Homo sapiens: one gene and its partners. The protein of the gene in region 1 interacts with the protein of each later gene in a pairwise test. Each region holds a gene or a part of one and is shown on either strand. Other genes may lie near its edges.

Evidence for each region.
Region 2: the proteins of EIF2S3 (region 1) and OTUD7B interact in binary tests that used the Homo sapiens proteins (3 or more experiments, as listed by UniProt).
Region 3: the proteins of EIF2S3 (region 1) and WBP1L interact in binary tests that used the Homo sapiens proteins (3 or more experiments, as listed by UniProt).
Region 4: the proteins of EIF2S3 (region 1) and PELI3 interact in binary tests that used the Homo sapiens proteins (3 or more experiments, as listed by UniProt).

The regions. Positions count from the first base shown.
Region 1 is NC_000023.11:24,050,847-24,057,955, reverse strand, and holds the start of EIF2S3 (eukaryotic translation initiation factor 2 subunit 3), read right to left. Parts: upstream 3,001-7,109; 5' UTR 2,988-3,000; coding exon 2,919-2,987; intron 2,342-2,918; coding exon 2,278-2,341; intron 536-2,277; coding exon 408-535; intron 324-407; coding exon 202-323; intron 1-201. UniProt on the Homo sapiens protein: Member of the eIF2 complex that functions in the early steps of protein synthesis by forming a ternary complex with GTP and initiator tRNA.
Region 2 is NC_000001.11:150,007,718-150,014,630, forward strand, and holds the start of OTUD7B (OTU domain-containing protein 7B), read right to left. Parts: upstream 3,010-6,913; 5' UTR 2,731-3,009; exon of another isoform or gene 1-2,730. UniProt on the Homo sapiens protein: Negative regulator of the non-canonical NF-kappa-B pathway that acts by mediating deubiquitination of TRAF3, an inhibitor of the NF-kappa-B pathway, thereby acting as a negative regulator of B-cell responses.
Region 3 is NC_000010.11:102,746,942-102,753,968, reverse strand, and holds part of WBP1L (WW domain binding protein 1-like isoform 1 precursor), read right to left. Parts: intron 1-7,027.
Region 4 is NC_000011.10:66,463,054-66,469,904, reverse strand, and holds the start of PELI3 (E3 ubiquitin-protein ligase pellino homolog 3), read right to left. Parts: upstream 3,001-6,851; 5' UTR 2,878-3,000; intron 2,776-2,877; exon of another isoform or gene 2,347-2,775; intron 1,778-2,346; 5' UTR 1,777-1,777; coding exon 1,625-1,776; intron 1,073-1,624; coding exon 1,001-1,072; intron 1-1,000. UniProt on the Homo sapiens protein: E3 ubiquitin ligase catalyzing the covalent attachment of ubiquitin moieties onto substrate proteins. Involved in the TLR and IL-1 signaling pathways via interaction with the complex containing IRAK kinases and TRAF6.

The DNA of each region.
Region 1 (7,109 bases):
TTTGGAGAAATTGCATGTAAGTATTTTAACTTAGGTTTAGATGCTTGACTTTTCAGATTTCCCATAAAAACATAAACAATGGAAAAACAACAAAACCATTTAGCCATTAGGTTCACCGTTTAACACCTCGATATTTCAAAAAGCACAAAACAGAAGACAATAAAATATAAAGTGTAGTGTTTGTAGCAAAAGAGAGGTCACCTGACTAATTTGAAGTTCCCTTTGGTCCCTGGAATGTCCGTAGGAAACTCGTCAGGTGTACTGCTCCCACAAGATCTATAACATTCTGGCCGAGGGCAACTTGGGTCATCAAGCTTATAAATCTAAAATTTCAATAAAAAAAGATTTTGATTTGTTATCTGCACAACAATTAAAGTTAGTTTCTCGTTCCACAGTACACAGCTTACCTTAGCATTAGCATATCCAAGCTTGATTGTAATATTTCTTTCTAGTTCATTTTTGAACCTGACAGTATGAACTCCAGAAATAGCTTTGACGACTGTGGATTTCCCATGAGCTACATGACCAATTGTACCTATGGACAAAGTTCAAAAAATTAATTCATGTGTATTTAATTACATACCAAATATTTTTTCAAATAGTGTTAAGAGTAGAAAACCCAAAGCCAGCTGGACACGGTGGCTCACGCCAGTAATCCCAGCACTTTGGGAGGCCGAGGTGGGTGGATCACAAGGTCAAGAGAGCAAGACCATCCTGGCCAACATGGTGAAACCCCATCTCTACTAAAAATACAAAAATTAGCTGGGCGTGGTGGCGCATGCCTGTAGTCCCAGCTACTGGGGAGGCTGAGGCAAAAGAATCACTTGAACCCAGGAGGTGGAGGCTGCAGTGAGCCGAGATCGTGCCACTGCACTCCAGCCTGGCAACAGAGCGAGACTCCGTCGCAAATAAATAAATAAATAAATAAATACAATTAAAGCCAAAGCCATAACTTGCTGTAAATATCAACATAAAACCAACAGTGACTTCAATTTTTCCTCCTCCATACCCCTTCCTACTAGAAACGTGTTCTCATATAGGACTTAAGAGAAACTTCCATGTAACTAACAGCTTTACTTAAAAAATATACTCTGGGACAGACAGGGTCTCCTGCTGCTGCCCAGGCTGGAATGCAATGCCCTGATCACAGCTCACTGCAACCTCAACCACCTGGGCTTGAGCAATCCTCCGACCTCGGCCTCCTTAGTAGCTGGGACTGCAGGCATGCACCACCACGCACAGCTAATTTTTTGTATTTTTTGTAGAGATGGGGTTTGGCCACGTTGCCCAGGTGGTCTCCAACTCCTGGGCTCAAGCAATCCACCTGCCTTGGCCTCCCAAAGGGCTGGGATTACAAGCATAAGCCACTGCACCCGGCCAGAACTTTATATATTAAGGAACCTTCCAGCATTTCCAGATTAAACAGGTATGATGGGCCCTGACACAACAAAAAGGGATCTGTGAACAAACAAGGAAACAACCTAAGTTTAATTGCAACTTGTTCCGTTGATCAAATTATTGGGTCAATATATGCACAGTAATTTGCTTTAACTGGTATAGTCTTAGCATAGGTTGTTCGGAGGTTAGGTTATGCTCCAAGGTCACCTCAACCAAAATTTTTAATGCAGGGGCAGTAGTTCAAGGCCTGTAGGCTTATTTGGGCTTTGTTTGCATTAATAAATTAAAGCTCCAGACTGTAATACTGTAACTTTAATAGCCTCATGGTGGAGTCTTACTTTTTAACTAGGTTAAAAACTAGTCTTACTTTTTAACTTACTTCTGTACTTTTTAACTTACTTTCGTACAAACTGTGCTGTTTGTACAAACTCAAAATGTCCAAAATTTACACTCAGTCAACGTAACTTCTCCTCTAAAGTTCTAGGTGCCAATTAAGAAAAAAAACCTTCTATTTAATCACAGCTTGTACATCAAATAAAACTTTCATAAATTCTGCCCTTGAAATAATCCTGTGTGTCAAGTACAGCCACATTTTTCACCTCTTCCTTAAACTTCTGCTACATATGACTACATACTGCCTTATGCTATTAAACTTTTCTTATGTCTCCATTTTTTCTTCTTACCGAGTCTGTAAGCTACATGTGGGCAGCATTCTTTGTGCTCCCCCTGCACCGCAAATGTAGCAGATGCTTTATTCACAAGGACTCAGTATCTATTTCTTGAATATCTGAATCCTCATACTATTCAAGTAATCACACAAAAAGTGAGGTTAAAATTAATTGTTGGAGACCAAGGTTAGGTCTCTTAAGTTACTCTTACCTATGTTAATTGTGGCTTGTCTGCTGATAACTTCGTGTGAAAGTGGCGTCAACTTGGTAACATCCTGCAATGAAATATATTTTAAAACACTGCACGTAAAACAAATGAGAACTTTTCCTTTGACTTTACGTTTGCTATCTACATCTTGCCACCATCTGCACAGCTTTCCACTACTTCTAAAGCTCCTTTTCCCTATCAGTAACTTTGTACTCCTATGGCTGGGAAGCTGTTAAGAGCCCTTCATCATTACACAACAGACTACACCTCCACTCAACTATTAGGGGATATCTGGAAGTCAGAGATCCCCCCAATCTTGGGAACATTAGCACTAAAAGTAATGCAGACAGGACACCCCCTTCCCAGACGTTCAGAGGCTGAAACCATGACAATCAACATCAAGACTTTCCAGCCGAACCCTCCAGAAGCTAGAAGTCCCACGACCGTACACGCCTGCGCCCAGATCGTGGACTGGCCTGGGTACAGGCGGCGCGAGCATGGCTTAGGGCGCCCAGTTCCAGGTCTCCCTCCTGACCCAGGCTCCTGACCCATGCTCCCGACACTGACTAGTCCCAATACCACCGGGAGGCTCGGTCACCTCCACTCCTGAGCTCACTCTGCATCCTCCCCAAGCAAAACCTCACCAAGGTGGTGAGATCCTGACGCGAAAGATGCGGCTGCCCTAGAGTCACTCCAGCTTCTCCGCCCGCCATGTTGCCAAAAGAGGAAGGAAATCACCCCGGCTGCCGCCTGATCATCTGCAGGGGTCCTAGTGCGGGGCGGGGAAGCGGAGACGGGAAGGCCGAGTAGGGGCTCAGGATGGCCGGTGCAGCAGCGGCCTCACTGCTTGGACATCTCTCCGCTTGAATCTGCACAGTGCCTGTCGGTAGGCTGAGTGGAAAACACGGTGCGAAGTTGCTGGAGCTATTCGTCGCAGACCTGGTAGATATTTGTGCAGGCAATACTGAGGGCAGCCACCAAACCCCCGCCCCGCCGGCCCGTGCGAGGCGGGTGATGCAACCCGGCGCGCGCGCTGGCCTGGGAGAGACCATTTCCGTTTCCTGTGGAGTTTCCCGAAACCTGGGAATCAGCTAGGGTGTGGGAACAGAGAAGAGGGAGTGTCCTCCCCGCCCTTTTTTTTTTTTTTTTTTGAATACCGATTTCTGTAATTTAATAAAGCGAGATCGGCTCGGGGTCGGCGCCCACCTATGACGGGGCTCTTGGCTGGGAGAAGGCCGCGTGCTGAGCCCCGGCGGGAGGTGGGGCGGGCGCCCCCGCGCGGAAGTTTGGTGAAGGGCTCAGAGGGGCAGGGCTAGCAAAATCAAAGTCCCCAGCTTGTTCCCAGAGAGCGATTTCTAGGGCCCGGGAGGTGGGCCTTGGTGACGTTAGATTGCGTTCCCAGTGAATATAGCTAGGTGTCGTAAGAGCGTCTGAAGTTCGCTGGTTTGTGTGTGTGTGTTTTGTTTTTTTTTTTCTTAAAGAAGCAGATCCAAAAAAACCTCGATTACCGATAAATCGGTATTTTAAAATTTAAAGAATTTTGAGACCTTAACCCACTTTTCGTCGTGTTGAAAAGCAGTTGAGTGATTTGTTTTTCTCCTTGCATTTCTATACAAATTTTATCATAAACAGCTATTTCCTTTTTTGTTTGCAATAAATTTATTTCCATAAAAACTTGTTAGACAGCTATTATGCAAAAGTATAGTAAAGAGAAGTGAAAAGATAATATGAAAGCCACAATGACGAATACTGAGAAGCCAAGCTCACTTTAGAATACTTGTAAGTAGTCATCAAGTTAGCTTATTTAGGAAATAAATATTATGAGGCCGGGCGCGGTGGCTCACGCCTGTAATCCCAGCACTTTGGGAGGCTGAGGCGGGTGGATCACGAGGTCAGGAATTCGAGACCAGCCTGGCCAATATGGTGAAACTCCGTCTCTACTAAAAATACAAAAAAAAAAAAAAATTAGCCGCCCGTGGTGGCGGGCGCCTGTAGTCCCAGCTACTCCGGAGGCTGAGGCAGGAGAATGGCGTGAACCCGGAAGGCGGAGCTTGCCGTGAGCTGAGATCGCGCCAACCGCACTCCAGCCTGGGTGACAGAGCGAGACTCCGTCTCAAAATATATATATATTATAAATGAAAAAAATGAGGGAAATTAGGGAAAATGAGGGGCAATATGAGAAGTGAAGAAAGGAATTCATTAAGGTGATAATTGCTACCTCTCTTTTTTTTCCCCCCGACTTTTAAGTTCAGGGGTGCATGCGCAGGATATGCAGGTTTGTTACATAGGTAAACTGTGTGCCATGGTGGTTTGCTGCGCAGATCATCCCATCACCTAGGTATTAAGCCCAGCATCCATTAGCTGTTCTTCCTGATGCTCTCTCTCCTCCCACCCCCAGCCGTCAGACAGCCCCCAGTGTGTGTTGTTCCCCCGCATGTGTCCATGTGTTCTCACCACTCAGCTCCCACTTATAAGTGGTAACATGCGGTATTTGGTTTTCTGCTCCTGCGTTACTTTGCTGAGAATAATGGCTTTCGGCTCCATCCATGTCCCTGCAAAGGATATGATGTTGTTCCTTTTTATGGCTGCATGGTATTCCATGGTGTGTATGTACCACATTTTGTTTATCCAGTCTATCATTGATGAGCATTTGGGTTGATTCCACGTCTTTGCTATTGTGAATAGTGCTGCAGTGAGCATATGTGTGCATGTATCTTTATAACAGAATGGTTTATATTTTAGAGGCTATATACCCAGTAATGAGATTGCTTGGTCTAATGGTATTTCGGCCTCTAGGGCTTTGAGGAATTGCCACTCTGTCTTCCACAATGGTTGAACTAATTTACACCCCCACAAATAGTGTAAGAGCGTTCCTTTTTCTCCACAACCTCGCCAGCATCTTTTGTTTTTTGACTTTTTAACAATCACCATTCTGACTAGTGTGAGGTGGTATCTCATGTGGTTTTGATTTGCATTTCTCGAATTATCAGTGATATTGAGCTTTTTTCCGTGTTTGTTGGCCGCATGTATGCCTTCTTTTGAGAAGTGTCTGTTCATGTCCTTTCCCCACTTTTTAATGGAGTTGTTTTTTATAAACAGCTATTTTAAACCAGAAAAAAAATGTAAGGAGAGGTGAATAAGAATTTAGGTTTTCTGGGCCGGGTGCGGTGGCTCACGTCTGTAATCCCAGCACTTTGGGAGGCCAAGGTGGGCTGATCACTTGAGATCAGGAGTTCGAGACCAGCCTGACCAAAATCCTGAGCTGGCAAAAACCCTCCTAAAAAATAGAAAAATTACCTGGGCGTGGTGGCACTACCTGTAATCCCAGCTACTCGGGAGGCTGAGGCAGAATTGCTTGAAACTGGGAGGGGGAGGTTGCAGTGAGCTGAGATTGAGACATTGCACTCTAGCCTGGACAACAGAGCCAGACTGTCTCAAAAAAAAAAAAATAGAATTTAGGTTATCTGTGTGTTCATTGAATACTTAAGTAAAATTTATATGAATACGTGTTTTATATCACATAAATTTTTGGTACAACAATTTAGCTAAAATAGGAAGTTATGTTTCAATAAATGCATGCATTAGTTAAGTGATGGTGAAAACTGGAGGTAATCACTTTAATCTTACATTCTTTTTTTTTTTTCTTTTTTTTGAGACAGAGTCGTGCTCTCTCGCTCAGGCTGGAGTGCAGTGGTACAATCTCAGCTCACTGCAACCTCTGCCTCCTGGATTCAAGCAATTCCCGTGCTTCAGCCTGCCAAGTAACTGGGATTACAGGTGTACGCCACCACGCCCAGCTAATTTTTTGGTATTTTTACTAGAGACAAGGTTTCACCTTGTTGGCCAGGTTGGTCTCAAACTCCTGACTTCAAAGTGATCTGCCTTCCAAAGTGCTGGGATTACAGGCCTGAGCCACCACGCCCCGCCTTAATCTTAGATTCTAAATATTTATACCAGCCAATTACAAAAACACACTGAGGTGATTAAAATGCCGGGGTATTATACAGTGGTGATGATTGCACATCTTTGTAAATATGCTAAAAACCAGTGAATTGTACAGTTTAATGTGGTGAATCTTAGGACATGTGAACTTTATCTAAATAAAAAAATCCGGCCGGGCTTGGTGGCTCACGCCTGTAATCCCAGCACTCTGGGAAGCCAAGGCAGGTGGATCATGAGGTTAGGAGTTTGAGACCCGCCTGGCCAACATAGTGAAACCTGTCTACTAAAAATACAAAAAAATTTCCCGGGCGTGGTACTGTGCGCCAGTAATCCCAGCTTCTCGGGAGGTTGAGGCAGGAGAATCTCATGAACCCGGAAGGTGGAGGATGCAGTAAACCCAGATCGTGCCATGGCACTCCAGCCCGGGATACAGTGCGAGACTCCGTCTCAAAAACAAAAACAAACAAAAAAAAACAACTCCAGCGAGATAGCGCCACTGCACTCCAGCCTGGCTGACAGAGTGAGACCCTGTCTCAGAGGAAAAAAAAAAAATACAGGCCAGGCATGGTGGCCTCGTGCCTATAATCCTAGTGTGTCCGGAATTGGTGGGTTCTTGGTCTCACTGACTTCAAGAATGAGGCCGTGGACCCTCGCGGTGAGTGCTACAGCTCTTAAGGTGGCGCATCTGGAGTTTGTTCCTTCTGATGTTTCGGATGTGTCTGGAGTTTCTTCCTTCTGGTGGGTTCGTGGTCTCGCTGGCTCAGGAGTGAAGCTGCAGACCCTCGCGGTGAGTGTTACAGCTCTTAAGGCAGCACGTCTGGAGTTGTTCGTTCCTCCCGGTGGGCTCATGGTCTCGCTGGCTTCAGGAGTGAAGCTGCAGATCTTCGCGGTGA
Region 2 (6,913 bases), on another chromosome or scaffold:
TAAAAAGTCAACTGAATTCAGGCATTCATGAGAAAAACTGCCCTGTATCTATCTTCCAGTTACACAAATTTTTAATTACCTGAATTTATCAGAGGCTACAAAAAAGATTCCACAGTCTGCTATTCCACAGCTCCTAAGTTCCCATAGGAAAGATACTGCTGAGGTCACATTTCAAAGCGCTGTTTAAGGATTTTCCCTTTGGTGGGATGAGTGTTTAGGGTAAGGAGAGTGCTACTCATACACACATACACCCACACTATAATGGCCAGTGTCTTTTAGCATGCTTAAGATACTCAGGAGCTCCAAAACTTTGACAAGTGGCACTTAGTGCCCTCATAACAATCAGAATACTTATTTTGGTTACATACATTGAATCTCAAAATTGCAAATAAAGCCTCCTGAGAACTAGGAATAGTGGTGGACTACCAGGCAGCTCTCCACTCATTCCTAGGCTTCTTCAACCCCTTTGATCCCCATGCCCTGGAATAAAGTATGCAGTTCAACTTAGGGAGTTGCTAGATGCAGATATAAATAGAATTTACCCAGATATCATCACTAATATTGGCACCAATCAACTCACACAGATCAAAACAATTATTGATCATCAACAGATTCTGGGAAAGGTGTATGTGGTTTTTAAAAATTAGATTTTCGTCTCCAAATTAAGTCGTTTTTTAAATAGGGGTCTCAAAAGAAAGATTAAACAAATAAAGCTTTGGGAAATTTTCCAAGTTGTTGGCAACATAAGGCCACTAAAGGCCACCTAATGATTAGCATTCATTACCAGTCACCGGGCCTTATACAAGTCAGTAGATAGCCAGCTCTTGCTTTGGCAAAGTTTTACATTTTTTTCCGAGGGAGTCTTCAGTATTAAAAGCAAGGAATAAGTCAAATAAGGCAATGACAATAAAAAATTAGTTTGGCACTATCTTCCTTCCATCTTTCCTTCTATCTTGAAAGTGTAATGTCCAAAGCAGATATCTGTTCAATTCTAAATTATTCATGTTAACGGATAATTATTGGCAGAAAGGTGGTGATAATCAAAAATGAGGGTAAAATCGAAAAAATCTATTTTGGTTTTGGAATATATGTTTTCAGCATATTTACCTTCTTAATTATTCCTAGTATGAGCTAATATTTGCATTGATTTGCAATCTCTAAGTACATAGTAACTGGCCACTTTGTCAGGGAGGTGCTCTGAGGCAAGCTGGGTCAATAGTGGAAATTAGAACGGTCGGGGGTATTCAGCCTGCAGAGGAGCAACATCAAGTTCATTTATTTTACAGTTTTGTTCAGCCTTCAAAATATCAATAGACTAGCACAGCAGGTTGGTTACTGAACGTTAAAAGAACTACTTGAAAAACAATGAAGACAAAGCGTATAATTAATTCTTCATTGTTTGCGCATAATGTATTTGTAAGTTATACACAGCAAATATTTAACTACCTCTGATTCTCCCTAGCCACCCAGCTTCCGTCCCTGAAGTCTTCTCCCCATCAGGAATGCAATCTCATTTAGTAGGAAGAAAATTTTCTACATGTTTTCAGAAGTTACATAGCATAGAAACTTTTTTAAATATTTAGGGGTTAGCAACTCTTTGGAGCCAGTCTTACCGCCACCTCTTTCTCTACTCTGTCCTTTTCCACCTTTGAAATAGATTCTGAAAGACAAAGGGATCCAGCCTCCTCAAAAATCTCCTAAATATACAGTACTAGAGGCCAAAGACTGAAAAATTAGCAGCATGTGAATTTCTAAGCAAAGCGTTACGTAGTACGTATAAAAAGATAAGGAAAATAAAAGTCAACGTCCTGCTAATTCTAGGCTTTGCATTCGTGAAAAGCTGCCTGAAAAGTTTGTGGGGAACTTCTTCCATAAAATTCCACCAGTCAGTTTCTAATTTCAAATTTTTACATCTTTATTGTGCCCAGAGAAGCCACCTAGGTTAGACAAGAAAGACTACCACGAGCGGGGAGAAAGAGACTCTGAGCGCTGGTCCTTGTGAGCCGACAAGCTAAAAATACGCCGGCCCAGTAAACAAATCCCATTCCATCCCGACCGGAGCCACACCGTTAACCTAGTAATTATGAGAAGAGTGAGATCACGCAGCCCCCGGCTTACTCATCATCAGCTTCTAAAGTTTCCATCGGCTCATGGCAACTTTTCTTTTTTCTAAAGTTCTTAAGACTGCCCTAGAATCCGTCAACCTCCGTCTCTCTCCCTCTCTCACACACACACACAAACACACACACACACCTTTTTCTCGCCTTTCCTCCATTACTGTATGCACCTTAGTTTGGCTATCAATAGGAAGAATAAGCTTATTTGCTTTTCATTTTAGTATTATATTGAGATTTTAAATGAACTTTATCCTACTGTGGGGATAATACACTGCATCTTAATCACCTTAAAACTCCACCATCCCTCCCGAAAGTCTAGCTGACAAGGGGGGACCGTCCAAACTGGCCAGCACAGCTCAGGAAGGGAGGCCGGGAGCTGGAGAGCGCGGGGTAGGAACGCAGGACGCAGGTGAAAGGGAGGAGGAAAGATCGGGACGAAGCAAGGAGCAGTCAGGGCGAGAAAGGAGTGCCGAGGGGAGATGGCTTCGGGTGAAACAGATTCAGAAAGGAGAAAGGGGACAGTGGCGATCTGAGGAGCAGAGTTTGCGAGTCTGAGAAGCCGGGAGGGGCGGGAGCAGACGGGGGACGGTGTCAGGACGGGGGGCTCCGTTACCCTCGCGGGCTCCCGGGGCAAGGCCCTAGGCCGGGGCGGAGCGCGGGGCCCGGCCGCCTCTCTTCATTCCTCGGCAGTGACCCCGGGGTCCGGCCGGCCCCTCCCCCGACGGCGATGGAGGTGGAGGCGGTGGTGGAGACTGCGACCGCAGCTGTTGCTCCGCACGGGATCTGGAGCTGGAGCCAGAAAGGACTGATCGGGACTGGCCTCCCCCAGTGGCTTTTTGCCCACTCCGCACCCGGTCGCCACTCCGGCTCCGGCGGCTGGTTCAGGATCGGTGGCTTTCTGCTGTCCGGCCGGAAACAGGCGCCAGTTTCCGGCCGGAGCGGGTTGGTGGTGACACCCAGGCCGCCCCCGGGCCTCCTCCCGCTCCGCCCCGTCGCAGCCCCGCCTTTAGCGCCGCTCCCCAGGCTGCGGCCAGTTTGGCGCTTGCCCCGCGCGTGACCCCGTGTTTTCCCGACCCGAGTCCCTAAAGCTCCTGGTCTGGAGCATTCTTGAACAGGAGTTGGAGGAGTACAGGGTGGACTCTTAGGACTCTGGGGTAGAATCAGTTGGCTACAGCCGTTGGGAAGGAGCTGAAAGGGGTGGAGTAGTTGTAGAAAGGTGAGAGAGATGAAAATACTTCAGAATGAAAAGACTGACATTCTAGTAACTCTACACAATCATTCTGGAGTGACCGGAGGAAGATTAGCTTCTTCCACACCAGTCTCCACCCAATTATATATTTCTCTTGTTCCTTCACTCTTGAAGTGAACATATCCTTCTCTGTAAACACTTAATATTTATTTACTTGCATAACAGTGATACCCTGTTGATACATCTGCTTTAGACTGCTAACAGTAAAAAAAACTTACATAGTGCGTTTGTTATGTCTTCTAGTGCGTTTGTTATGTCTTTTAAAACATTATGGCATAATTCAAATATGTATTGTATCCCTGTGATGTGTATCACTGCTCTCAGTGATACAGGGGGATACAAAAATTAACAAGACATAATCCCAGACATCAAAGGTTTTACAATTTAGTAAAATACATAAAACTATATTATATGTAGCAGAACTTGTATGTGTCCTACCTGAGTGACAATGAGCTATGGCTATGAGAACATAATAAGCCATCCTTGTCACATAGTAGACCTTCCATATTTGTTGAATGAATGAATAAGTATTAGGCCTGTGTGGACTGTTTCAAGAAAGAAAGGCCATTTAGTAAATACCTCTTTATGACAAACACAAAACGATGCCAACCCCGGCTATACTCTAACAAAAGACATTTGAAATTTTAATTCAGATTCCTAACATTATAGCACCTGGTCTGCATATTCAAAATAATGTATTGCCTAATTGTGCCCATTATGCCTATGTAAAAACAAATACTCTAGTCAACTTTTCTTTCCCCTCACTTCTTCCTCAGTTTCTAAAGGGGAGGCGTGGGGCATAGGCATTTTAGAATTGTCTAGCTCAGAATAGGAAACTGACACCTGAAACAGGGAAACTTCCTAGACAGCTATATCTCTTAGGGATACACCTGGGTTTACAATCGAAAATTTAGGGCTGGGCCCAAGGCTGTCCACACATGCTAAGGCCAAACAAGTCAGAGTGCCTTGCATGGGGGCATATCCAAGACATACAATAGAGGTTGACAAGTAAAGTCATTTGGCGTGGGCTTCAAGCGTATAAGGGACCACAAATTTTAGCTACCGTTTAGTGGTAAATTTAAGGAGGAGAGCAGGATGAGATTTGGTCACCTAAATTGACTCTAACTGAACTCTAACTGAACTGAACTGGAAGGGTACGGGGGTGGACGCTTGGGACTCTGGGGTAGAATCAGTTGGCTACAGCCGTTGGAAAGGAGCTGAAAAGGGTGTCGTTCTAGAAAGGTGAGAGGGATGAAAATACTTTAGAATGAAAAGACTGAAATTCTAGTAACTCTACACAAACATTCTGGAATGATTGTGACAACAATCACTGACCACACCTACCCTTTGCTAGTTAAATCTGAGATGGGAGCACAGATCTGTAGAAGAGGAGCCTCAAAATCTGAAAGTTGCCTTGTTTCACCACAGCTGTCCAGAACCAGGTTATACCCATATAAATATGTCTTTCTAATCTTAACGCCACTGCCACAGACTTAATAGAACCAGGCGTGGAGCTCAAAGGCACTCTACCCTCAATATAAGACTTTTTCTTTTGGCAGTGACCATAGAAGGTCTCCAGATTTGAAAGCTGGGCCAAGTTGCTGGTCAAAGTCATTTAAGTGACCACACTTTATAGGCTTGCCTGGAAATTTAGGGGCCAGGAAGTGATGGGGTCACAGTTGCTTTGTGCCTATTTCTTGCTCTGACCATCCATCATTCATTGTTGTTTGTGCAGTTGCTCAATGGGCTGCTTGTCTTTGGTCAGCCCAGGCTGTGTGGGTAGCAGTGTGGTCAGCTGGGCTGGGAGCCAGGCCACCTGGGTTCTGGTCCCAGCTCAACCAGTCCCTAATCCATTAAGTGACTCCCTTCCCATTCCTGTGTCTCAGTTTCTCTGCGTAGAAACTAGAGGCTTCTTCTCTAGTGATATGCAGCCATTTAGGCTGGCACTAGGTTGGATGCTCAGAGGCAGCTGTTTAATGTAGACATTGGCAGCAGCCAGAACACAGTTGACTATTTCTTGCTGCTAGGTAGAATAGTAAGGGAAAAAAGGTAAAAGCACCAGACAAAATCCTACCGGTGTACACAGGGCCACACACCCTCAACTGCTATTCTGTCCAAAGTTCTTTTCCACCCTAGAGATCTGTTTTTGTTTACTCGTCTTAGCAATTCTAAGGGCTGCTTCAAGGAGCTCCCTGAGCTTTTACATCACTTTAAGCAAGAGCAGAAAAACCAGAGCTTTGCATTTCACCAGAGAAACTAAAAAGAGAGACTATTTCAATACTGGGGCTAATGGCTAGAGTTGGGGAAAATGTTCAGAGAAAGGTTGTAGCTAGGCAGGGAAAAAAACTATTTACATTTATATGCTTTTGTGGTGGAAAAGAAAACCAAACCAAAATAACTTCCTTTCCACCGCCACCAATATAATTTAGACCATTGGTTCTGGGGAGTTTTTAAAAACTACATATTATACATGCCTAGGAACCTCAGACTGACGCAGAATTCTTTCTTGGAACTGAAGACCATGAATCCATATTTTTTAAAAAAATATCTAGGGCTCGGCTGGGAGCAGTGGCTCACGCTTGTAATACCAGCACTTTGGGAGGCTGAGGCAGGCGGATCATGAGGTCAGGAGATTGAGACCATCCTGGCTAACCCGGTGAAACCCTGTCTCTACTAAAACTACAAAAAATTAGCCAGGCGAGGTGGCGGGCGCCTGTAGTCCCAGCTACTTGGGAGGCTGAAGCAGGAGAATGACGTGAACTCGGGAGGCGGAGCTTGCAGTGAGACGAGATCGCGCCACTGCACTCCAGCCGGGCAACAGAGTGAGACTCTGTCTCAAAAAAAAAAAAAAATAATATATATATACACACACACACACACACACACACACATATATATACACACACATATATACACACATATATATACACACACATATATACGTATATATACGTATATATGTGTGTGTATATATATGTGTGTGTGTGTGTGTGTGTGTGTGTATATATATATATATATATATAGTAGGGGCTCAGCCAGGCATGGTGGATCCTGCCTGAAATCCCAGCACTTTGGGAGGCCAAGGCAGGAGAATGGCTTGAGCACAGGAGTTTGAGACCAGCCTGGGCAATATAAGGAGATCCCATTTCTACAAAAATAAAAAAAAATTAGTCAGGCATGGTGGTGCATGCCTGTGGTCCCAGCTACTAGGGAGGCTAAGGTGGGAGGATCACTTGAGTCTGGGAGATCGAGGCTCAGGGAACCATGATTGCACCACTGCACTCCAGCCTGGGTGACAGAGAGAAAGTGTCTCAAAAAAAAAAAAAAAAGCTGTATGAGGGGAAGTTTCATAATGTTAAACACATTCCTACCCTAAAACCTAGTAATTCCACTCCCTAGGAATTTACCCAATAGAAATGAAATATATGTGTACACAAAAAACTTATACGTGAATGTTCACTATAGCTTTATTCATAATAGCTCCAAACTAGAACATTTTAAATGTTCACCAACAGAAAATTACTTATATTGTTCTTACAATGGAGTA
Region 3 (7,027 bases), on another chromosome or scaffold:
TTTTGAAAAATACGAATATTTTCTCCATGAATGCATGCCTCTGATCTGAAAGAATGTGTAATAAAAGTGTTACAACATAACATTTGTCTTGCTAGATATTTAAAAATCAAAACAGACATGTTTTTGTAACTCTCCATTCTAGGACCCACCCTTCCAAGCCACAGATATTCTTGTAACATCTTACATTTATTTTTACCTCTTCCAAAAATGTTTAAGTTAAATTATTTTAAACACCTGAGATCTTGAATCAAAACTTAGCTTTGGCACTGTGAAGACGACAGCACCAGGAGCAGAAGAAAAACAACTCCTCTGATTTCCCACAGAAGAAAGTGTGGAAAGGAGAAAACCAAAAGTAAATAAATCAGAGCTATGGGAATGTAACTGAGTAAGCAAGCATATCCCAAAAACCCAGACCATGCAAGACGGGTGATCTGCAAGTCTGAGAGGATGACCTACTTAATCCCCAGATCAGGAAAGCTCAGAATTGTATCAACAAGCCTTAAAATTCAATAGGATGGGATTTGTTTCCCCCTTCTTGACCTCCCAGGTTGCAATGTTCTGGATTTACTTGTGTTTCTTTGTGGTTTCCACATAGCATGCAGTTTTCAGGCCAGACTTTGCTCCACCTAGTGGAACTGAAAAGGATGTTTCAAAAGGGAGGTGCCCACAGACCAGACCTCAGCCTGTCTACTGTATGCCACCAAGGAGAGAAGCCACCAAGACCCTCTGTTGCTGTAGCGTGTGCCTGTAGTCCTAGCTACTTGAGAGGCGGAGGCAGGATAATCCATCACTCAGTGGCTGCTCTTACTGGCTGTGCAGTTACAGTGGGATCAGCGGCCCCAGTGGTGTCCATGAATGGGGTAGTAGGAGCAAGGAACCAACCCAAGCCATTCTACCACCTGGAACCTGATGATCTCCCAAGTGTTAGTCCTAATAGCTGATGGCAGGAAAGCAAGAGGTCCTCTCAAGGGTATGGGTGGACAGGCATTCAAAAGACAGGTGAAGTTTTGAATCCAAAGCCATGCAAGATACCCATGACAACAACAAAGACCCGACGGCTCAAACATCCACAGATGAGCTGCCTCTTGGGGGCCTGAAAAGAGGACTCTCCTCAAGACACAGCCACCCTGAGGTCCAGGACACTTAGCTTCTCTTGTGACAGACCCTGAGAACACCTAATGATTTCCACAGGCTAAGCGTGCGTGAGAGCAAACCAACATTCCTGAGGCCGAAAATCAGAGTAGAGCCAGGACTTGGAATGGGGAAAGGAAAAAGTTCTAAGAACATGACTCAGTTCAGATTGGTTGCAGGACTATGGAGGACACAGAAAATAACTGACCATCAGGCTTTCACTGGGAGCAAAGCAAATCATGTTCTTAAAATAAAACCACAGAGCAGATCAAAGCAAGAGGAAAGAAAGTTCAAGATGGGGTAAATAAGGGAGGCTCACCTGCTTACTGAATCACAAATCAAAAAAACGTGTTTTCAAAATGTTTGATGTTGGCTGACAAGACAGAGCTGACTGACCACATACATCAACAAACCTGAAAGGCAGTGAGATTCGGCATATCAAAGCTTCAAGTCCCACCGAAAACTCGCTGTCCAAGGTTATTTCATACACTTCACAATGCTATGTTGTTCTTGCAAGAAAGCTGACCCCAAGCTCTGCAATAATGAACAGGACCTGGTAAGGCCACAGCAGGTCCCACTAAGCCAGGATTTCTCCACCTCGGGACCACTGACATTCTGGGCTGGAAAAGTCTTTGTCGTGGGGGGCTGTCCTGAGCATTCCAGGATGCTAAGCAGCATCCCTGGCCTCCACTCACTAGATACCAGTGGCACTCCCAAGCTGTGACAGTGACTAATGTCCTCTGGAAGGACAAAATTCTCCCCAAACCTAAATTCAGACATAGAACAGAATAAAGAAAGTCACTTGCAAAATCTCCAGATCTCAGTTCCTGAAGTTAGTCTGGGAGTTGACACTAACTTACAAACCATAATACACTCTGAGGACTGCCAACAGCAATAATGGTGATAATTATTATTATACTTATTAATCATTGAATATATTCCAAGAGCTTTACATATATTATGTCTTTTCACCTCATGACAACCCCATACTAGTACAATTCCCATTTTATAGATGAGGAAGCTGAGGCACAAAGAGGTTATGTAACTTGCTCAAGGACAGTATCAAATTTGGAACTCAGGTGGTCTGACCCCAGAGCTCATGACATGACCACTAGGTTTGACTGTACCAAATCCCTACTCTGGAAAGTTGTTAGATCAGTATCCTCCAATATGTAGTCACTATCTACATACAGCTATTTAGTTTAAATTATTTTAAGTAAATATCACATTGGCCAGGTGTGGTGGCTCACACCTGTAATCCCAACACTTTGAGAGGCCAAGGCGAGCAGATCGCTTGTGCCCAGGAGTTCAAGACCAGCCTGGCCAACGTGGTGAAACTCCATCTCTACAAAAAATACAAAAATTAACTGGGTGTGGGTGCGCACCTGTAGCTCCAGCTACTAGGAGGGCTGAGATAGGAGGTTTGCTTGAGGTGGAGATTGCAGTGAGCTGAGATTGCACCACTGCACTTCAGCCTGGGCAACAGAGGGAGATCGTGTCTCAAAAAAAAAAAAAGGAAAGAAAAAAGAAAACCTTGATTGGGCGCAGTGGCACACACCTGTAATCTCAGCACTTTGGGAGGCCAAGTCGGGCAGATCGCCTGAGGTCAGGAGTTCGAGAACAGCCTGGCCAACATGGCAAAACCCCATCTCTACTAAAAAATACAAAAGTTAGCTAGGCATGGTGGTGCATACCTGTAGTCCCAGCTACTCAGGAGGCTGAGACAGGAGAATCACTTGAACCCAGGAGGCAGAGGTTGCAGTGAGCCAAGATCACACCACTGCACTCCAGCCTGGGTGACAGAGTGAGACTCTGTCTCAAAAAAAGAAAGGAAAACCTTATGGTAAGTGAAATAAGCCACAAAAGACCACATAGTGTACCATTCACTTTATATGAAATGTCTAGAACAGGCAAATCCATAGGAATGGCAAGTAGATCAGTGGTCACTAAGGGATGGAAGAAAAGGGGCTAGAAAGGGAAGTGACTGCTAATGGCTATGGGGTTTCTTTCTGGGGTAAAGAAAATATGCTAAAATTGGGCCGGGCGTGGTGGCTCACACCTGTAATTCTAGAACTTTGGGAGGCTGAGGCGGGCGGATCACAAGGTCAGGAGATCGAGACCATCCTGGCTAACACAGTGAAACCCCATCTGTACTAAAAATACAAAAAATTAGCCAGGTGTGGTGGTGGGCACCTGTAGTCCCAGCTACTCAGGAGGCTGAGGCAGGAGAAGCGCTTGAACTCTGGAGGCGGAGTTTGCACTCCAACCTGGGCGACGGAGCAAGACACCGTTTCAAAAGAAAAAAAAAAAGAAAATATGCTAAAATTAGCACTGATAGTCACAAATTCTGTGACTATACTGAAACACCAATTTATGTATACTTTAAAAGGGTGAATTTTTTTGGCATGTAAATTACCTCAATAAAGTTTTTTTTTCTTTTTTTGAGACAGGGTCTCACTCTATCGCCCAGACTGGAGTGCAGTGGCGTGATCTAGGCTCGCTGCAGCCTCTGCCTATGGGGCTCAAGCGATTCTCCTGCCTCAGCCTCCTGAGTAGCTGGGATTACAGGTGCACGCTAATTTTTCTATTTTTGGTAGAGATGAGGTTTCACCATGTTGGCCACGCTGGTCTAGAACTCCTGACCTCAAATGATCCACCCGCCTCAGCCTCCCAAAGTGCTGGGATTACAGGTGTGAACCACTGCGCCTGACCTGATTATATCTCAATAAAGTTGATATAAAAAATTAAATATGGGCAGCCAGGCGTGGTCGCTAACGCCTGTAATCCCAACACTTTGAGAGGCCAAGGCGGGCAGATCATCTGAGGTCAGGAGTTCGAGACCAGCCTGGCCAACATGGTGAAACCCCGTATCTACAAAAAAAATACAAAAAAAATTACCCAGGCATGGTGGCAGTGCTTGTAATCCCAGCTATTTGGGAGGCTGAGGCATGAGAATCCCTTGAACCCGGGAGTCAGAGGTGGCAGTGAGCCAAGACTGCACCATTGCACTCCAGCCTGGGCAACAAGAATGAAACTCCATCTCAAAAAATAAATAAATAAATAAATAAATATGGAGGGCCAGGAACAGTGGCTCACGCCTGCAATCCCAGCACTTTGGGAGGCTGAGGCAGGAAAATCACTTGAGCCAAGGAGTTCAAGACCAGACTGGGCAATATAGTGAGACTTCTGCTCTATAAAAAAATTTTTTTAATTAAAAAAAATTAGGCCAGGCATGGTGGCTCACGCCTGTAATCCAAACACTTTGGGAGGCCAAGGTGGAAGGATCACTTGAGCCCAAGGAGTTCTAGACCCACCTGGGCAACATGGTGAGACACTCATCTCTACTTAAAAAAAAATTTTTTTTATTAGAGAGAAAAAAAAAAGAAAAAAAATTAAATATAGGGCCAGGTGTGGTGGCATGCACCAACAATCCTAGCTCCTTGGGAGGCTGAGGCAGAAGGATCGCTTGAGCCCAGGAGTTCAAAGCTGCAGTGAGCTACGACTACACCACTGCATTCCAGCGACAGAAACCCTATGGGCAACAGAGCAAGATTCTGTCTCTAAAAAATAAAAATATGTAAATAAACAAATATGTTTCAAAATTAAATATGTTTCAAAATTCAGTTCCTCAGTTATCCTAGCCACATTTCAAATGCTCAGCAGCCACCTGGCTAAGTGGCTACTGAATTGGACGGCACAGAGAGAGATCATTTCCAGCATCACAGAAGGTTCTACTGGATGGTGCAGCCTTAGATGAATGGATGAAAGGCCTCCTGACCATGTGACAACAGCCTCTCTTTCGAGCCTCCCCCACTTCCACACTCCTCTACACATCCACACACAAAGCTTCTGCCACAGAGTACATGTCACCTCCAAACACACTCTCCATTTTCATTCTTCCACACTGGAATCCATTTTTCCCCTTCCTGGTCCATACTCTACCCATGCTTATCAACCTTTAAAGTCCTGAACAAATGCTTTTTCCTTAATGAAGTTCTTCTTAGCACCCCATCTTCCTCTTGCCCTAGCAGAATCAGTTGTGCTGACAGTCCTTTGTTTGTACTTCCATTTCAGCAAAACCTCTGGATTACAATTCACTGTGTGCGCTATCTGTCCTTGCCACAAGATTTCCAGCTCCTGGGGAACAGGGATTCCATACTCATTTGATGGTTCCCAGGGCCTAGCAATAATAGCCTGCTGCAAAGAGTAGACATTTCAGTAAATGTCCATTCTTTGATGCCTACTGAATTCCACTGAAAGAGTTTGCAGAAACTCAAGGTGCTGATTTTACACTTTGGTACATCAAACGCACTAAGCAGGTGAGGTAAAAGGGATTAGAATCTGGAAGTCTCGAATCCCACTATTGTATAAGGAGGAATGATGGTGATGGCATTGAAATACCATTTGTAAGAAAGGAGAATGGAGTAGGGCTTCCAGACTGAAAACTGGGAATGGAGGTGAGTAAAGGTAAGGTGGGAACCAAAGGGTATACCATTGAGGGTGAGGTGGGAAAAAATAGCAGGAACTGAGGCCCCCATCCAGCTCAAAGTTTTTTTTTGTTTGTTTGGTTTTTTTTTTTTGAGACGGAGTCTCGCTCTGTTGCCCAGGCTGGAGAGTGCAGTGGCGCGACCTCGGCTCACTGCAAGCTCCGCCTCCCAGGTTCACGCCATTCTCCTGCCTCAGCCTCCCGAGTAGCTGGGACTACAGGTGCCCACCACCATGCCCAGCTAATTTTTTGTATTTTTAGTAGAGACGGGGTTTCACTGTGTTAGCCAGGATGGTCTCAATCTCCTGATCTCGTGATCCGCCTGCCTCGGCCTCCCAAAGTGCTGGGATTACAGGTGTGAGCCACCGTGCCAGGCCCAGCTCAAAGTTTTAAGCCTGGCAAAGGAAAGGTAAGGACTGCATCTCTAGAGATTTGTCCCTAAACCACTGGCTGAGTTACCCTATTAAAAAAAGACATTTCTACCAAAACTTTGTTTTAAATAACATAGTCAAATATTCTGTTTAGGCTGGGCAGAGTGGCTCATGCCTGTAATCCCAACACTCTGGGAGGCTGAGATGGGCAGATCGCTTGAGCCCAGGAGTTTGCGACCGGCCTGGGCAACATGGCGAAACCCCATCTCTACAGAAAAATACAAAAATTAGCAGGGCGTGGTGGCATGCACCTGTAGTCCCAGTTACTCAGGAGGCTGAGGTGGGAGGCTCGTTTGAGCCTGGGAGGTCGAGGCTGCAGTGATCCAAGATCACATCACACCACTACACTCCAGCCTGGGCAACAGAGTGAGATCCTGTCTCAAAAACAAAACAAAAACAACAACAACAAAAACAAACATTCTGGTTAAATCTAAACAACCAAAAGAAACTCTATGTATCTCAATGATAATTTAACTGGAGGAAACAAACGCCAAGGCTGTCGGAGCCTTACTATTTGGAGCATCTACTGTTTTCTCATTCTTTTTTTTTTTTTTTTTTTTTTGAGACGGAGTCTCGCTCTGTCACCAGGCTAGAGTGCAGTGGCATGATCTTGGCTCACCACAACCTCTACCTCCCACGTTCAAGCGATTCTTCTGCCTCAGCCTCCCGAGTAGCTGAGACTACAGGTGTGCCACCATGCCTGGCTAATTTTTGTATTTTTAGTAGAGACAGGGTTTCACCATGTTGGCCAGAATGGTCTTGATCTCCTGACCTTGTGATCTGCCTGCCTTGGCCTCCCAAAGTGCTGGGATTACAGGGGTGAGCCACCATGCCCAGCCTTTTTCATTCTTTATAGATTTAAGGATTCACGTCTGTGAGTTGTAATGTCATAACCTGTAGGAGAGTTAAGTCTAAGTTCCTAACCACAGAATGAACTAGCTGATGAACTTTCCAGGGCCTGCCTGCATAAACAAGAAAT
Region 4 (6,851 bases), on another chromosome or scaffold:
TCACTTGAACCCAGGAGGTGGAGGTTGCAGTGAACTGATATCGTGCCACTGTACTCCAGCCTGGGTGACAGAGCAAGACTCTGTCTCAAAAAAAAAAAAACAAAAAAAAAAAACAGATTCCCTGGTCCCACCCACTGCGACTGTGATTCTGTAGGCTTGGAGAGGGCCTGTCAATGTGTATTTTCAGTGCCCTCCAGCCAGCTCTGATATGCAGCCAGTGTGGACTCTGCTCCCCAAGGGGGCTGACAGGAGGGTCCATACCCATGGGTCTGCAGCCTCCCACATTAGTGGCCTTGCCTTGGGCTGGAAAGCCAGTCCTGCCTTTGGGATATGAAGCAGCTGCTTTTCCAAGGCAGCTTCTCCCAAGGGAGACATCACTTTTGCCCTTGTGAGCTCTTCTCACACATGGGGGGCAGGTCTTGAGGTGGGACAGTTCAGGACACAGGCTTGGGACACAGATGGGCCTGGCTTAAATCTGGCTCTTCCACTTATCACATGACCTCTGTAAAATGGAGCTAATTTTTTAGGACCTACCTCGCAGGTTCATTTTGAGAACTAAATGAGACAAAGCATTTAAAAGCGCTTGGCACAGAGTTTGGCATATTTATAGGAAGCCCTTGATAAGTGTTCACTATTACTGCTTTTTTTTTTTTTAAAGCATGTGTCAACAAACAGCCATTAAAAAAAAATCTTAATGATAATATAGCTTATCAAATAGTTTCTTTAGGACTGATGGCAAAGAGAGGCCAAAAGGAGATCCAGATGGGGGAGGAGGAAGAGGGTCTGTCCCTGGGGAAAGATCTGAGTGGATGGTGCAGGGATCCTGGTCAGGCAAAGACCAGGAAGGGATGAGGTTGGCCAGGCCGCCAGATCACGTTGCTTCCTCTCTCCTGGCCTTGGCTTTCTCATCTGTAGTGTGAGGGTCAGCTGTGGCTTAGTGAAAGCGCACTAGACCTAGAGTAAGAAAGACCTGGGTCCAAATCCCAGCCCTGCCACTTACCAGCTGTGTGCCCTTGGGCCAGTCACTTCCCCTCTCTGAGCCTCGGTTTCCTCACCTCCTTCCTCACAGCATCTTTGTGAAGATTGAAATGAAATAATGTCCATGAAAGGGCTTGGCACAGGCCTGCCTCCCAGAACACTCGATATGTGCTAGGCGCTGTTCTATGTACTTTACAGAAATCACCTCATTCATTTCTTCCAACAACCCTCTGAGGAAGGGATTATTATCATCCCCATTTGCAAAACAGGGGAAACAGAGGCACAGGGAAGTTCAGCAACTTGCAGAGGCAGGATTTGAACCAAGCAGTTTTGCTGGAGAACCAGAGTTCTTCACCCCACACCACACACACTAGGTGCTTTAGGAAAGGCAGCTGGTGTTAACATTTTTCTCATCTGATCAGGAAGTTGGGTGGTTAGAGTTGTCACAGTACTTTGTGAAAAATGGGAAGATAAAATAATAATTATGAATTGAGGTGGGTTTGGTCAATTTTGTCTTTCAGCTAGGAAGGTGAGGAGGGACAAACAGCTGAAGGCCCTATGTGGGGGGAGGAGGGGTCGGGCCCTTGTTCTGGCTGCGTTGGGTGGGTGTCTGGTGCTTCACCCCTTCTAGGCCAGGGATGCTCACCCCAGGACGATGAGTTCACCATACTTGATGGGCTCCTCGCCTGGCTGCGCATCTTCACCGGGAGAGGAGAGAACGCAAGAGCCCTTGTTCCCCCGGTGCTGGAGGTCTGAGGTTCGGGGGGACCCCACTTCAGGGTTTCCTTCCAGCACCATTCTGGGCAGAGTGGGAGAGAAAAGAGCTTTGTAGGTTCCCACCCCAGCCCGGCTCAATTCCAGCTGCAGCCTGCTGCAGGGCCGCCTAGGCTAAGGCAAGGGTGACCTTTCACCGCCTCTACTGCTATGGCAACCACTTCCCCTCTGCCTCCTCTAAACTGCCCGAGGTTGCTGGGATACCAGGGAGGGGTGGCACAGTGAAGAGAGTCAGGATATTCAGTGGTGCCAAAGAGATGGACCAACTTGGGGTGGCCAGAGGCTGCTTTTTGGCCAAGATCCCAGTCTGGGATGTGCTTCAAAGCGGGGCACCCAATGAGTTGGGGGCCGTTACCCCTCATCTCAGACTCAGTTCCTGCTTATAGCTCTTAGCCTCTGGACCTCTGATTTAGCCTCTCTGACAGGTTCTTTGAATCTACCTGTCCATCTGAATCTTTCTTGCCCCTTTGAGGTCTAGGCCTCTGTCTGTCCATCTGCTTTCTCAATGACTCTCTGTCCTCCCAGCCGCTGTCCTTTTTGCCGTCTCTCTCCCCCCATTCCCCATCTCTGCCTGTCTGCCCGCCTCCGCCTCACCATCTGCCTCAGTCTCCCCATCTCGGCCTCCCCCTGCGGGTAGGCCAATAGACTCCTCCTGGGTGCGCGCTCTTCCCTCCCTCAGGTGTCTGTCTGCGTCCCCAGCCGCCCGGGTCTCAGGAGGCCTGCGGAGGCGGCGCTCCCCCCTCGAGCTCGGGCTGCAGCACAGCCGTCTCCCGCAGGCAGCCCGTTTGGAAAACATCCCCGCGCCAGAGGGACCGCGCCGGGGCAGGCCCGCGCCCTGCGCCCCGGGCGGGCAGAACGGGAACCGCGGCCCAGCACCTACGCAGGTCCACACCCGGCGGCCCCTCCGCACAACACGCGCGCGTGCACGGCCCCGCACGCCCCGGGCCCGGACGGCGCAGAGACCACCCGCACCCGCGACCGCAGGGACGCGCGGGCGCGCAGCAGCCACCGGCGCCCGCCCTCGGACCCACTCCCTCCACCACCCCCAGACACGCAAACACGCCCCCCGCGCCCGCCGGGGCCCGCCTGGCGCAGCCCCCGCCCCCTCCGCCCCGGCGGCCTCACCTGGCCACGCTCCGGGCCCCGCTGGGCGCCGCTCCCTCCCCGCCTAGCCCCTGCTCGGCCCCGGGCCGCTGCGGCGGGATGGGCCCGGCCCGCGGCGGCTCCGCGCTGCCTCGTCACGGGGACACCCAGGGCCGGGGGAGGGGGATGAGCGCGAACAGCCACGCTCCGCCCCCTGTCCGGAGGCCCCGCCCCATTTTCCCCGCCCCTAGGAGAGCTCCGCCTCGCTCCAGACTCCGCCTCTTGCGGCGATGCTCAGCCTTCGTAGGCGGAGCTCCGCCCCTTCGCAGGAGACCACGCCCTTCCCCTGGTACCGCCCTCTGACCAGGGAAGCCCCGCTCTCCACTCCGTCTGAGGGACTCCCTTGCCCCTCCTAGCCGGCTCAGGACTCCCCCGTAGTCTACACGACCCCTCCCCCATTTCAGACTCCCCAAACTCCGCCTCCATTTCCGGGGACTCCGGGGTTCTCCCAGAGACATGGGCGCCCCTCCCCACTGTCGGTCAGGGCCCTCACACGGCGCTGGAGGCCCCTTCCCTAGCCTTAGGCCCGGGACTACGCACCCCCAGCTCCGACACCCCGCCTACCATCTGGGGACGCCACGCAATTAGAGGAGAGGAGGAAAATGCTAAAGGCAAAGGGGGTGTGCGGCAGCGGTGGAGGCCGGGGAAAGCAGCTGCAGTTGACCAGAGTCGCAGACCTGTCTTCCAGCCCAGCTCGGGCACCCCCCATTCCCCTCCCCTCAGTCCCCTCCCCTCCGCCAGGATGCACACACCCCCCGCTGTGCTGCAAAGGAAAGAGAGTTTTGGGGGAGCACCGCCCCTTCTGGGCCTGGGGCTTGCGAGAGATCTATCAGTCTACGTTAGGCGCTGTGCGCTGTGCTTTGAGCAAATTAAACCCTTTACTTTAATCCTGGGAGGCAGGCACGATAGTTGCCCATTTTACAGATGAGGAAATAGATTTACAAAAGTGACTTGCTTGTTGTAGTTTGCTAGAAACGGGCCAAGAGAGAATCTCAGCTGTATGAGTGGCTTCAGTCTCAACTCCTAACTTCGTACCTTGTCGTTCTGACTAGGGATGGAGCCTCAGAGGTGCAGAAGAGAAACCTTGTCTGCATCAGGTAAGGTCCCTATTGCTCAGTACTCTTGGTCTGGAACTATAAAGGCTGGATTATAGTTCCAGATCAAGTCTTTGGTCTTGTGGGGGGCGGTGGGGGTGTTTAATGAGAAAATCAAGGAAGACTGCACAGAGGAGGTGGCTTTTGACTTCCATTATGAAGGATGCATGTTTAGTTTGCCTAAACATTCCTGAGAGGGAGCCGCTGCCACTCCCACCCCCACAAACTTGTTGCACCTGAAGTTCCCCATCTACCAGACTCCCCTGGGGCCCTACTATATCCACCCCGCTAACTCCTCCACCTAAAAATAGCCAAAGATACCAACTGCTTTGCCAACTGTTCTGGGGCCCAGCGGCTAGATGAAACAAGAAAGCAGCCGACGGCACATCCTTTAGGGGAAAAGACACTCGTTAGTCACAGAGAATCTCCCTGCGAGACTTCCACCAAGCAGGACACCACCAGACCGCTGGGCTGCTGGCTGCAGGTCACACAAACCCTGTGACACAGGATAGCTGCCCTCACTGATGCCACCAGAGGCGTCCATTGTGCTGGGTGTGCACGGGGACCCTGGGACAGCCTCACTCCCTTGTGTACCCCCAGCTTTTAATGCATTGCCTGCCAGAGCAGGTCCTCAGTGAATATATACTGAATCCCTGTTATAATCCCCAATTTACACACCAGGAAGCTGAGGCTCAGGCAGAAGAAGAAACTTGCCCCAGGTCACAAGCCAGGCAGATGTGGAGCTGATGCTTCACAGGAGCCCCAGTGCTTCCACCTGACACTGGACTGCATGGAGGAAGGTCTGAGAGGGATCACCAAGACTCACTGGAGGAGGAGGCAGGGATTTCTCCTGGGGCAGTACTGGGATTGGAGCTGCATGGTGGCACAGCCAGACCATCAGGCCTCAGGGAGGCTGAGGTGGGCCCGACACCAGGATTGCCCAAGTAAGGGAGAGGAAGGGAGAGTTAGGACACCAGTAGCAGATGCCTAAGTTCCAACCTTGGCTTCTGGCTCTAAATCCAGCGCTCTGCTCCAAGAACTCCAGCTTCTTAATCTCACTAAGCTTCAGTTTCCTTATGTGTAAAATGGGAATAATAATGATACTTGTGGTGAATAGGATTTTGCAGTATTGCTTTGAAATTCCTTTGTCAACCCTCCCTTTTCTCTCTTCAATCTAGATCTTGTCCCTGTTGGTTCAAAGAAAGGAATAAAATAGAAACTTTATTTCTTTCTTAAAAAATTTTATTATTATTATACTTTAAGTTTTAGGGTACATGTGCACAACGTGCAGGTTTGTTACATATGTATACATGTGCCATGTTGGTGTGCTGCACCCATTAACTCATCATTTAGCATTAGGTATATCTCCTAATGCTATCCCTCCCCCCTCCTCCCACCCTACAACGGTTCCCGGTGTGTGATGTTCCCCTTCCTGTGTCCATGTGTTCTCATTGTTCAATTCCCATCTATGAGTGAGAAAATGTGGTGTTTGGTTTTTTGTCCTTGCGATAGTTTGCTGAGAATGATGGTTTCCAGCTTCATCCATGTCCCCTACAAAGGACATGAACTCATCATTTTTTATGGCTGCATAGTATTCCATGGTGTATATGTGCCACATTTTCTTAACCCAGTCTATCATTGTTGGACATTTGGATTAGTTCCAAGTCTTTGCTATTGTGAATATTGCCGTAATAAACATACGTGTGCCTGTGTCTTTATAGCAGCATGATTTATAATCCTTTGGGTATATACCCAGTAAAGGGATGGCTGGGCCAAATGGTATTTCTAGTTCTAGATACCCCTTTTTTTTTTTTTTTTTTTGAGACGGAGTCTCGCTCTGTCGCCCAGGCTGGAGTACAATGGCACAATCTCGGCTCACTGCAAGCTCCACCTCCCAGGTTCACGCCACTCTTCTGCCTCAGCCTCCCGAGTAGCTGGGACTACAGGCACCCGCCACCACGCCTGGCTAATTTTTGTAGTTTTAGTAGAAACGGGGTTTCACTGTGTTAGCCAGGATGGTCTCGATCTCCTGACCTTGTGATCCGCCTGCCTCTGCCTCCCAAAGTGCTGGGATTACAGGTGTGAGCCACCACGCCCGGCCGAAACTTTATTTCTTTAATTCTTGGGTTCTAATGCCTGAAGGGGAGAGGCTTGGAATAGTTTGGAAAAGTAGTTGTATATCTAGTTGAGAAAACATGTGGAAAAAACAAAACAGGGCTGGGCGCAGTGGCTCACCCCAATGCTTTGGGAGGCCAAGGCAGGAGGATCGCTTGAGGCTAGGAGTTTGAGACGAGCCTGGGCAACATAGTAAGACCCTGTCTCTACAAAATTAAAAAAATTAGCTGGGCATGGTGGTGCCTGCCTGTAGTCCCAGCTACGCAAGAGGTTGGGTCAGGAGAATCATTTGAGCCCAGGAGATCGAGACTGCAGTGAGCTATGATCACATCACTACACTCCAGCCTGGGCAACAGAGTAAAATCCTGTCTCTAAAAAAAATTAAGAAGAGAAAAAAACAACAGCAGCACATTCTTTCTGGGCTGGGAGATTTGGAGAGGAGAAGGAAGAGCTAAGATGCTAGGTTCTGCCCTTGAGGCCATGCCAGACGGGGAGGGTGGGGTTGGGAAAAGACAGATCCCTCACATGGATTTGGGGATCCAGAGCAGAGGCGACCTGGGCTTCAGTTCTCGGTCTCTAGCTTTAGAGGAAAGCCCTTGAAGCAAGGCCTGAGAATAATAATCCATGGCTCTTGGTCTCTTAGTTCTACTTCCTGAGTCATCTTTCATTTTCCATAAAAGGTAGTCTGTGTTTGCAGCTGAGTAATTTTCTTGGCCTGCATCCTGTCTATAGAAGTTTGAGGGTTCG